2 linked regions of the Homo sapiens genome follow. The protein of the gene in region 1 interacts with the protein of each later gene in a biochemical or structural test. Each region holds a gene or a part of one and is shown in the gene's direction. Other genes may lie near its edges. The genes, in order: EIF4E and EN2.

Evidence for each region.
Region 2: the proteins of EIF4E (region 1) and EN2 form a complex in vitro, tested with the Homo sapiens proteins (one study listed by BioGRID).

Annotation. Positions count from the first base shown.
Region 1 is NC_000004.12:98,922,546-98,926,354, reverse strand, and holds part of EIF4E (eukaryotic translation initiation factor 4E), read left to right. Parts: intron 1-3,809. UniProt on the Homo sapiens protein: Acts in the cytoplasm to initiate and regulate protein synthesis and is required in the nucleus for export of a subset of mRNAs from the nucleus to the cytoplasm which promotes processes such as RNA capping, processing and splicing.
Region 2 is NC_000007.14:155,456,815-155,461,128, forward strand, and holds the start of EN2 (homeobox protein engrailed-2), read left to right. Parts: upstream 1-1,314; 5' UTR 1,315-1,563; coding exon 1,564-2,248; intron 2,249-4,314.

The DNA of each region.
Region 1 (3,809 bases):
GTCAGGCTGGTCTTCAACTCCCGACCTCAGGTGATCCGCCCGTCTTGGCCTCCCAAAGTGGTGGGATTACAGGCATGAGCCACCGCGCCTGGCCTGAAAATTTTTAGTACTTTTAATATACCCTTGTGCACAGGCTAGTTATGTGGAATTATTTTTGACAGTTTTAAATAGTTGGATTTTGTGTGTAGGGGTGCAGGATCTTGCTCTGTTGCTGGGGCTGGAGTGCAGTGGCGCGATCATAGCTCACTGCAGCCTCAAACTCCTGGGCTCAAGAGATGCTTCCATCTCAGCCTCTGGTGTAGCAAGCACTACAGGAGCAGGCCACCACGCCCGGATAATTTTTAAACTTTTTGTAGAGATGGAATCTCGCGATGGTTACCCAGGCTGGTCTCAAACTCCTGGACTCAAGTGGTCCTCCCACCTTGGCCTCTCAATATGTTGGGTTACAGGCGTGAGCCACCGAGCCTCGCCTGGATTTTTTTTTGAAGCAACTGATTAGAATTGGATTGTACTTGAGATACCCCTGCTGAAGGCTGCAAAAATCATGTTTTTTCTTACTTCAGCTAGTTTGTGAGCTTCCATAATGGTTTTCTGCTGTGCATAATCATAAACACTTAAAAAGAGCCATGGGCTTTTCCTGCTTATCCCATCATGCATAGGTATCTGGATGATTTTTGTCTATGGACATTACATAAAATATCATTTTCAGTTTGATATTATTGTGTGGTTTTCTCTTTGTATGAGTTGAGTTACATGAAGATGTGGCCCACAAATATTAAATTTGTTGAGAAGCTTGAAAGGGAAAATTAAGGGAAACATTTTACCTCTTAACGGATAATTTGGCAAAAATTTGAACGTTAGGGCAAACGGTACTCTGATGTTATTCTATCGGCATTTGAATTGTGGCTGGGTCAAAATTAGGTTTAATATTAGTCTGTGAAAATGGCAAGGCCATCTTACCTCCAGTAGGTCGTGTTTCTTTGTAGCTTTATCTTCATTCTACATCGTTCATTATTAGAATTAAAAAAATTTTTTTTTGACTTGTAGTTCCTTTTGAGGTAAGAGATTAATTTTGATTTCTTTAGCTTAACTGAAAGTGTATAATTTTACTTGTTTTTACATTGTAGCTCTTGAATTTTTTGAAACCACGCTAATTTCATAAGTGAATCAACTTGGACAATCAGCTAATTTAATGCTTCCTTTTTTATACTTTGGAAACATGCTCTGTACTACACAGCTTATTAATAAGAGTAAATAAGGTTTATATACATATTGACAAATATTTGTTGTACTATATAATTCATATTAATGAACAATTGAATGCCAACCAGACTATGCAAATTAGTGGACTTTTTGCTTAATGAAAGAACCCACTATATCAGAGTTCCTCGATAATCCACGTAAATTTGGCTCTGGGGTTCATATTCCAGATTTCTTCAATTAAAAGAAAAAAATATACTTGCTGAGTGCGGTGGCTCACGCCTGTAATCTCAGCACTTTGGGAGGCCGAGGCGGGTGGGGATCACTTGAGGTCAGGTGTTCGAGACCAGCCTGGCCAAAATGGTGAAACCCTGTCTCTACTAAAAATACAAAAATTAGCCAGGCCTGGTGGCAGGCGCCTGTAATCCCAGCTACTGGGGAGGCCAAGGCAGGAGAATCGCTTGAACCTGGAGGTGGAGGTTGCAGTGAACCGAGATGGTACCACTGTACTTCAGCCTGGGCGACAGAGCAAGACTCCATCAAAAAGAATAAAAAAAAAAACAGAAACAAATTTCACACTTCATTTTATAATCTGAGTTAATGAGCATGATTATTAGACTTAGAGAAATTCAATGTAGACACACAGTTTATACACAGAAGTTGCAGAGGGATAATATGCAAAATGAATTATGTAAGCTTACTCTAGTTTGGACAGAAAACTGTAGGCAAAAAACATTTAAGTAAAATATTGTTTAATTTACATAAAGTTAAGAATATGGGCCGGGTGCGGTGGCTCATGCCTGTAATCCCAGCACTTTGGGAGGCCGAGGTGGGTAGATCACCAGGTCAGTAGTTTGAGACCAGCCTGATCAACATGGTGAAACCCCACCTCTACTAAAAATACAAAACTTAGCTGGGCGTGGTGATGCGTGCTTGTAATCCCAAGGTACTCAGGAGGCTGAGGCAGGAGAAGCTCTTGAACCTGGGAGGCGGAGGTTGTAGTGAGCTGAGATTGTGCCACTGCACTCCAACCTGGGTGACAGAGCGAGACTCCGTCTCAAAAAAAAAAAAAATAAACAAAAGAAGTTTCCTTAATCTATTAGTACCGGTGAGTTGCACCATCTTAGTCATAGAGACTTTTTTGAGAAGTGGAAATGAGCATGGGTTATAGTCTCATCTTAATATCTGAGTGATCTTGAAGACTGAAATTTCTAAGTCAGCTGAAAGTCGGAATAAGATATATTACGGTGATTTCAATTTTTAAATGCAGTATTCAAAGGTGACAGTTTGTCAACTGTAAGGGACTAAAGTTGACATTCCATGAATGTTTTATACTCATGTATATCCATGCATTTACATACTATTTTCCCTCTTTTCTTGGAAATTCACATTGCTGCTTTTTAATTATCAATCCTTAGCCATTAGCAAGAAATGCAAAGCCTGTGATTCACAATCCTAAGATGTTCTTCCCACTCCTATCCCTACCATAAAAATCACTAGTGTTCCTTCAAAAGTCCCTAATCATGTCTCCAGAAAAAGAAAGGGGCTGGGCTTGGTGGCCCACACATGTAATCCGAGGCTTTGGGAGACAAAGGCAGGAGGATCACTTGAGCCCGGAGTTTGAGACCAGCCTGGCCAACATGGCGAGACCCTGTCTCTCCAAAAAATTAAAAAATTAGCTGAATATGGTGGTGCACACCTGTGTCCTAGCCTCAGGAGGCTGAAATGGGAGGATCCCCTGAGCCTGGGAGGTCAGAGCTGCAGTGAGCTGTGATCACACCACTGCATTCCAGCCTGGGTGACAGAAAGAGACCCTATCTCACCAAAAAAAAAAAGAAAAAGAAAATGATTTTGCGTGTGTGTGTGTGTGTCTAAAATACTAATAGTCATTTCTGGGCACTTCTGGAACCTGAGAATGTGGTCAGAAATATAAGGGGTTTTTTTTTTTTTGTTTCCCCAGTTGGAACTTTTGATACATTATTCCATAGAAACAGTAGGAAAATGGGCCGGGCGTGGTGGCTCACGCCTGTAATCCCGACACTTTGGGAGGCTGAGGTGGGCGGATCACCTGAGGTCGGGAGTTCGAGACCAGCCTGACCAGCATGGAGAAACCCTGTCTCTACTTAACAAAATTACAAAATTAGCTGGGTATGGTGGCACATGCCTGTAACCCCAGCTTCTTGGGAGGCTGAGGCAGAAGAATCGTTTGAACCTGGGAGGTGGAGGTTGCGGTGAGCCTATGTCTGCCATCGCACTCCAGCCTGGGCAACAAGACTGAAACTCCTTCTCAAAAAAAAAAAAAAAGAAAAAAGAAAAAACAGGAAAATGAAGTTTAGTCACACTATATTCAGTAAATTTTTGTGGAATCATTACAAATCTAACCAGCATTGGATTTATAGGGATATGGAATTAAGGATATGGATTTATAGTTGTAAGCAACTAACTAAAAAAACCTTATAAACATACCTTGTTTGTAACAGCTATTTTTAATGTAGAAAGATCGTTATTTGTAATTGCTACACATAGCACTTATTCTATGTTAAGTACCACACTGAATGCTTTACATATATTAACTCATTTATTTCTTTTTTTTTTTTTTTTGAGACAGC
Region 2 (4,314 bases), on another chromosome or scaffold:
GGATTCCTTTAGAACCTCCGAGGCTCCTGGATTTCTCCCTTCGCAAATGGAGCCGCATACTGCATTCCCCCGCTCTTTCGGATCGCTAAGCATGTTTCATGAGGGTCGCTGTCCCCGGGTGGAATGCGGCCGTATGCACGCGCCTCCCTGCACACGCACACACACGCACACTTACAATAAGTGTCTGCAGGAGGAGTGTCCTGCGCGCCAGCTCTGCGTTTAAGACAGGAAGCTGCCGGGTTACCGAGTCAAATGGGAGTGACACTATTCCTCTCCATCAGCAAGGAAAGCGGACCACAAAAGTCCCTTTGTATCTCGGCAGCTCATTTAATATTATTTATGCATTTTGTGCAAGGAATTGTGGGATTTCGCCCCACGGTAAACAATATGGAAATCTTAAAAATAGCGATCTTCCTGTGCGTGTCCACCTACGCGCCCCGGGGTGACCTGGCGGGGCTGTCGCCGGGTGACTCACACCCCTGAACCGCGAAGCGACAGGGAAAGCGCGGGCGAGCGCAGGAGACGCGGTCGGGGGTCTCTCCGGGTTCCTGGGCTCCCGCACCCGGAGCGGGGGACGCGGCCGCTTTAAGGGGAGGAGGGGCGGCGGGCTGCTCCTGTCACCCAGCGGCGGCCGGAGCGTCACGTGGGCGCGCGGCGCCGCGGCCATTGGCCCGAGGCACGTGTCCAGGAGACCGGCCTGCGACGTCACTCGAGGGGGCTCTGTTAAAAATAAGAACAAAAATCCAGAGTGAAAGTGTCTCAGGTTGCGCCGAGTGGCCTGGAAATTTCCGAGCCCGCGCGGAGGCCGAGGCGGCGAGGGCGGCGGACGGCCGGGGAGCGCGGGCGGCCCAGCCCGGCCCGGCCGGGCCCTGGCCTCGCGTCTCTCACCCATGCGACTCGGGCCGCGGAGCTCTGCGGGGCTCGGCGGGGGCGCGGCCGCACGCCGGTGGGGCGCCCCGGCCCGCAGCGGGGCGGCGGCCGCGAGGAGGGGGCCTCCATGTGCGTGCGGGCGGTGGCGGGCGCGCTGACCGCGGGCGCCCGGCACCCTCGAGGGCCGGCTAGGGCGTGCGGGCGGGGACGGCCGGGCGGCGGCGGCGGCCGGAGCCGGCCCGGGCGGGCGTGAGCGCCGGGGAACGCGCTGCCTGCATGCGCGCAGCTCTCGCCCCGGGCGGCCCAGGCGGCGGCGCCGGAGCCCGAGGCGGCCGGACGCGGAGAGGAGCGGGGAGCCCGGGAGGCGGCCCGCGTCCCCGCCGGACCACTGCGACTGTCTAGACCCCGGCTGCGCGGCGAAGTCGAGGACTTGGCTCTGTTGAATCTCTCATCGTCTGGGCGAGCGGGGCGGCTCGTGGTGTTTCTAACCCAGTTCGTGGATTCAAAGGTGGCTCCGCGCCGAGCGCGGCCGGCGACTTGTAGGACCTCAGCCCTGGCCGCGGCCGCCGCGCACGCCCTCGGAAGACTCGGCGGGGTGGGGGCGCGGGGGTCTCCGTGTGCGCCGCGGGAGGGCCGAAGGCTGATTTGGAAGGGCGTCCCCGGAGAACCAGTGTGGGATTTACTGTGAACAGCATGGAGGAGAATGACCCCAAGCCTGGCGAAGCAGCGGCGGCGGTGGAGGGACAGCGGCAGCCGGAATCCAGCCCCGGCGGCGGCTCGGGCGGCGGCGGCGGTAGCAGCCCGGGCGAAGCGGACACCGGGCGCCGGCGGGCTCTGATGCTGCCCGCGGTCCTGCAGGCGCCCGGCAACCACCAGCACCCGCACCGCATCACCAACTTCTTCATCGACAACATCCTGCGGCCCGAGTTCGGCCGGCGAAAGGACGCGGGGACCTGCTGTGCGGGCGCGGGAGGAGGAAGGGGCGGCGGAGCCGGCGGCGAAGGCGGCGCGAGCGGTGCGGAGGGAGGCGGCGGCGCGGGCGGCTCGGAGCAGCTCTTGGGCTCGGGCTCCCGAGAGCCCCGGCAGAACCCGCCATGTGCGCCCGGCGCGGGCGGGCCGCTCCCAGCCGCCGGCAGCGACTCTCCGGGTGACGGGGAAGGCGGCTCCAAGACGCTCTCGCTGCACGGTGGCGCCAAGAAAGGCGGCGACCCCGGCGGCCCCCTGGACGGGTCGCTCAAGGCCCGCGGCTTGGGCGGCGGCGACCTGTCGGTGAGCTCGGACTCGGACAGCTCGCAAGCCGGCGCCAACCTGGGCGCGCAGCCCATGCTCTGGCCGGCGTGGGTCTACTGTACGCGCTACTCGGACCGGCCTTCTTCAGGTGAGCCCGCGGGGACCACGCGTCCCGGCTCGCCGCGGGGAGGCCCGCGGAGCTGGGGGGCGGTGCTGGCGCGGGAACTTACCGGGAGGAAAACATCTCGAACCTCCCCCGCGCACACGCACAAAGACTCACGCGACATTGTGTGAAGCTGACGCCGGCCCGGGCAGCGGCCAGGAGTCCAGCGGCAGGACTGATTCGCTAGGGGGTACAGACTTCTTAGGACCGCAGAAGGGACCTTCTTTCTTTCTCTGTCTCTCTCTCTCCTTCCTCTCTCCCTGTCTCCCCTCTCTGTCTTCCACCCCGCCTTGGCGCATCTCTTCCCAGCCCCTAGCCCATGTCTCCCCCACTGTAGTTTTTTTTGGTGGGAACGTGGTGGCTGGAAGATGGGCCCGGAAGTGCACACTCTCATCCCCTTCCCTACGATCTTCCAACTCAGGCCAGGCCGGGGACGCATGCCCCAGCCCACCCCAGACTTGTCCTACCATCCGGTTATCCCGGCTGTGCTCGGGGAAGAAAAGGCGAGGCCCTTTGCCGCTCTGCCTTCTGCCCCTCGGGCCTGCGCTGACCGGTGGGACTCAGGAGGATGCACACAGGGAAGGAGGAAAATAAAGGCGCCCTTTCCCCTTGGCTCCACTTTGTTTGCCAGCGCCAGCCCGCAGTGGTGGGGCTCAGCCCCCTTCCTGCACACAGCGAGGACAAGGGAGGCAGCCGTCCCTCCCGGCACCTGCCATCCCCAAATAGAAAGGACCTTCTCTCAGGGTTTCCTGGGGGCTGCTGATGGGAAAGAGGCAGCATTCGCAGGGGCCCTGCAGAGATGCTGGATATATTTTTTCATAGATCTGCGATTTTAAAAAACTAAGTCCATGTCCTTGTAGAAATCATCAACTGCATTCCATGCGGGTCTGCGGCTGGGAACCGCCATTAGAAGTGGACTGTTTGACCCCGAGCTGGCAGCGGATCCCCGCTGCCCCCAAACCCTCAACTATTTTGCGGGGGTCATTTGCCCAGATCACAGCAGGAGTGAGCCAACCCTTGGGCCGCCATCCCGCAGAACTATGCGTGCATATTTCTGATGAAATTCAGATTTCTCAGCTAGATCTGAAATTTGCTCCATTGTTCTCGTCTTCCTCCTTTGTTAATATTTAATTAACATACAGGCTCACAATGCCGGGCGAGGAGACTCGGCCGGGCTTTGTGCGGCGCGGGAGTTCGCTGAGCCAGCCCCCAACGGCCCGGGAGCTGGGCAGCACCGCCCGGCCCGGCCTGGCCCGGCCCAGCTCAGCCCAGCCCAAGTCGCCTATCTTCATGGGCTTTAAAATATCCCTGCAAGATAATGTTTCTGTTCTTTGGTTTCTCCGAAAGAAAGGGGAGAGAGAGTTTTCTTGGGGAGGTTTGATTCTGTTTCTGAGACTCCTAAGTATTTGTCTTTTGAAAGAAAATCAAGAAAAAAACCTAAAAATTATTATTTTAGGGAAATTTATTGCCATAAAATGGTGTCCTTTTGCGGGCTGCTTCATGAGTGCATTAACAAGAGCCCCAGGACCAGAAGAGTTTGGGGGTAGAGTTCTGGGGAAGGGAGTGGTTGGAAACCCAGACAGAGATGGGCTCTGGGAGCAGGAGGCTGGGGCCTCTCCTGGAGCCTTGTGCCCCATCCCCCACCACCGTTCCGGAGGGCCAACCCCATCTCCAAATCTGCACCTACCCCTACCAAAGCCAGGCCCACTGGCCTGGAGCCCTGGGCGTGAGCAAGACAGGCACTGAGTGTGTACGTGTGCATGGGGTGGGTGCCCAAGTATAGGGTGTGTGCTCTCATGGGTGGTGAGCCTGCCTATGGGTTGCTTTAAAAGCTGCCCTTGGTGCTCCTGAGGTGGTGCCCACAGATCCTCTTTCTCCAGGCCTGTCTCCTGGAGAGAGCACAAGACTCACTTGGCCATGAGGGAGTGCTTGGCATTCACCCTGGGCCTCCAGTTCGTCCCCCACCTCTTGCTGGGCACAGCCCCAGCACCCTAGTTGACTCTCCTGACCTGGGCAGGGTGCAGTCCCAGGGCCTCCAAGGAGATCCACAT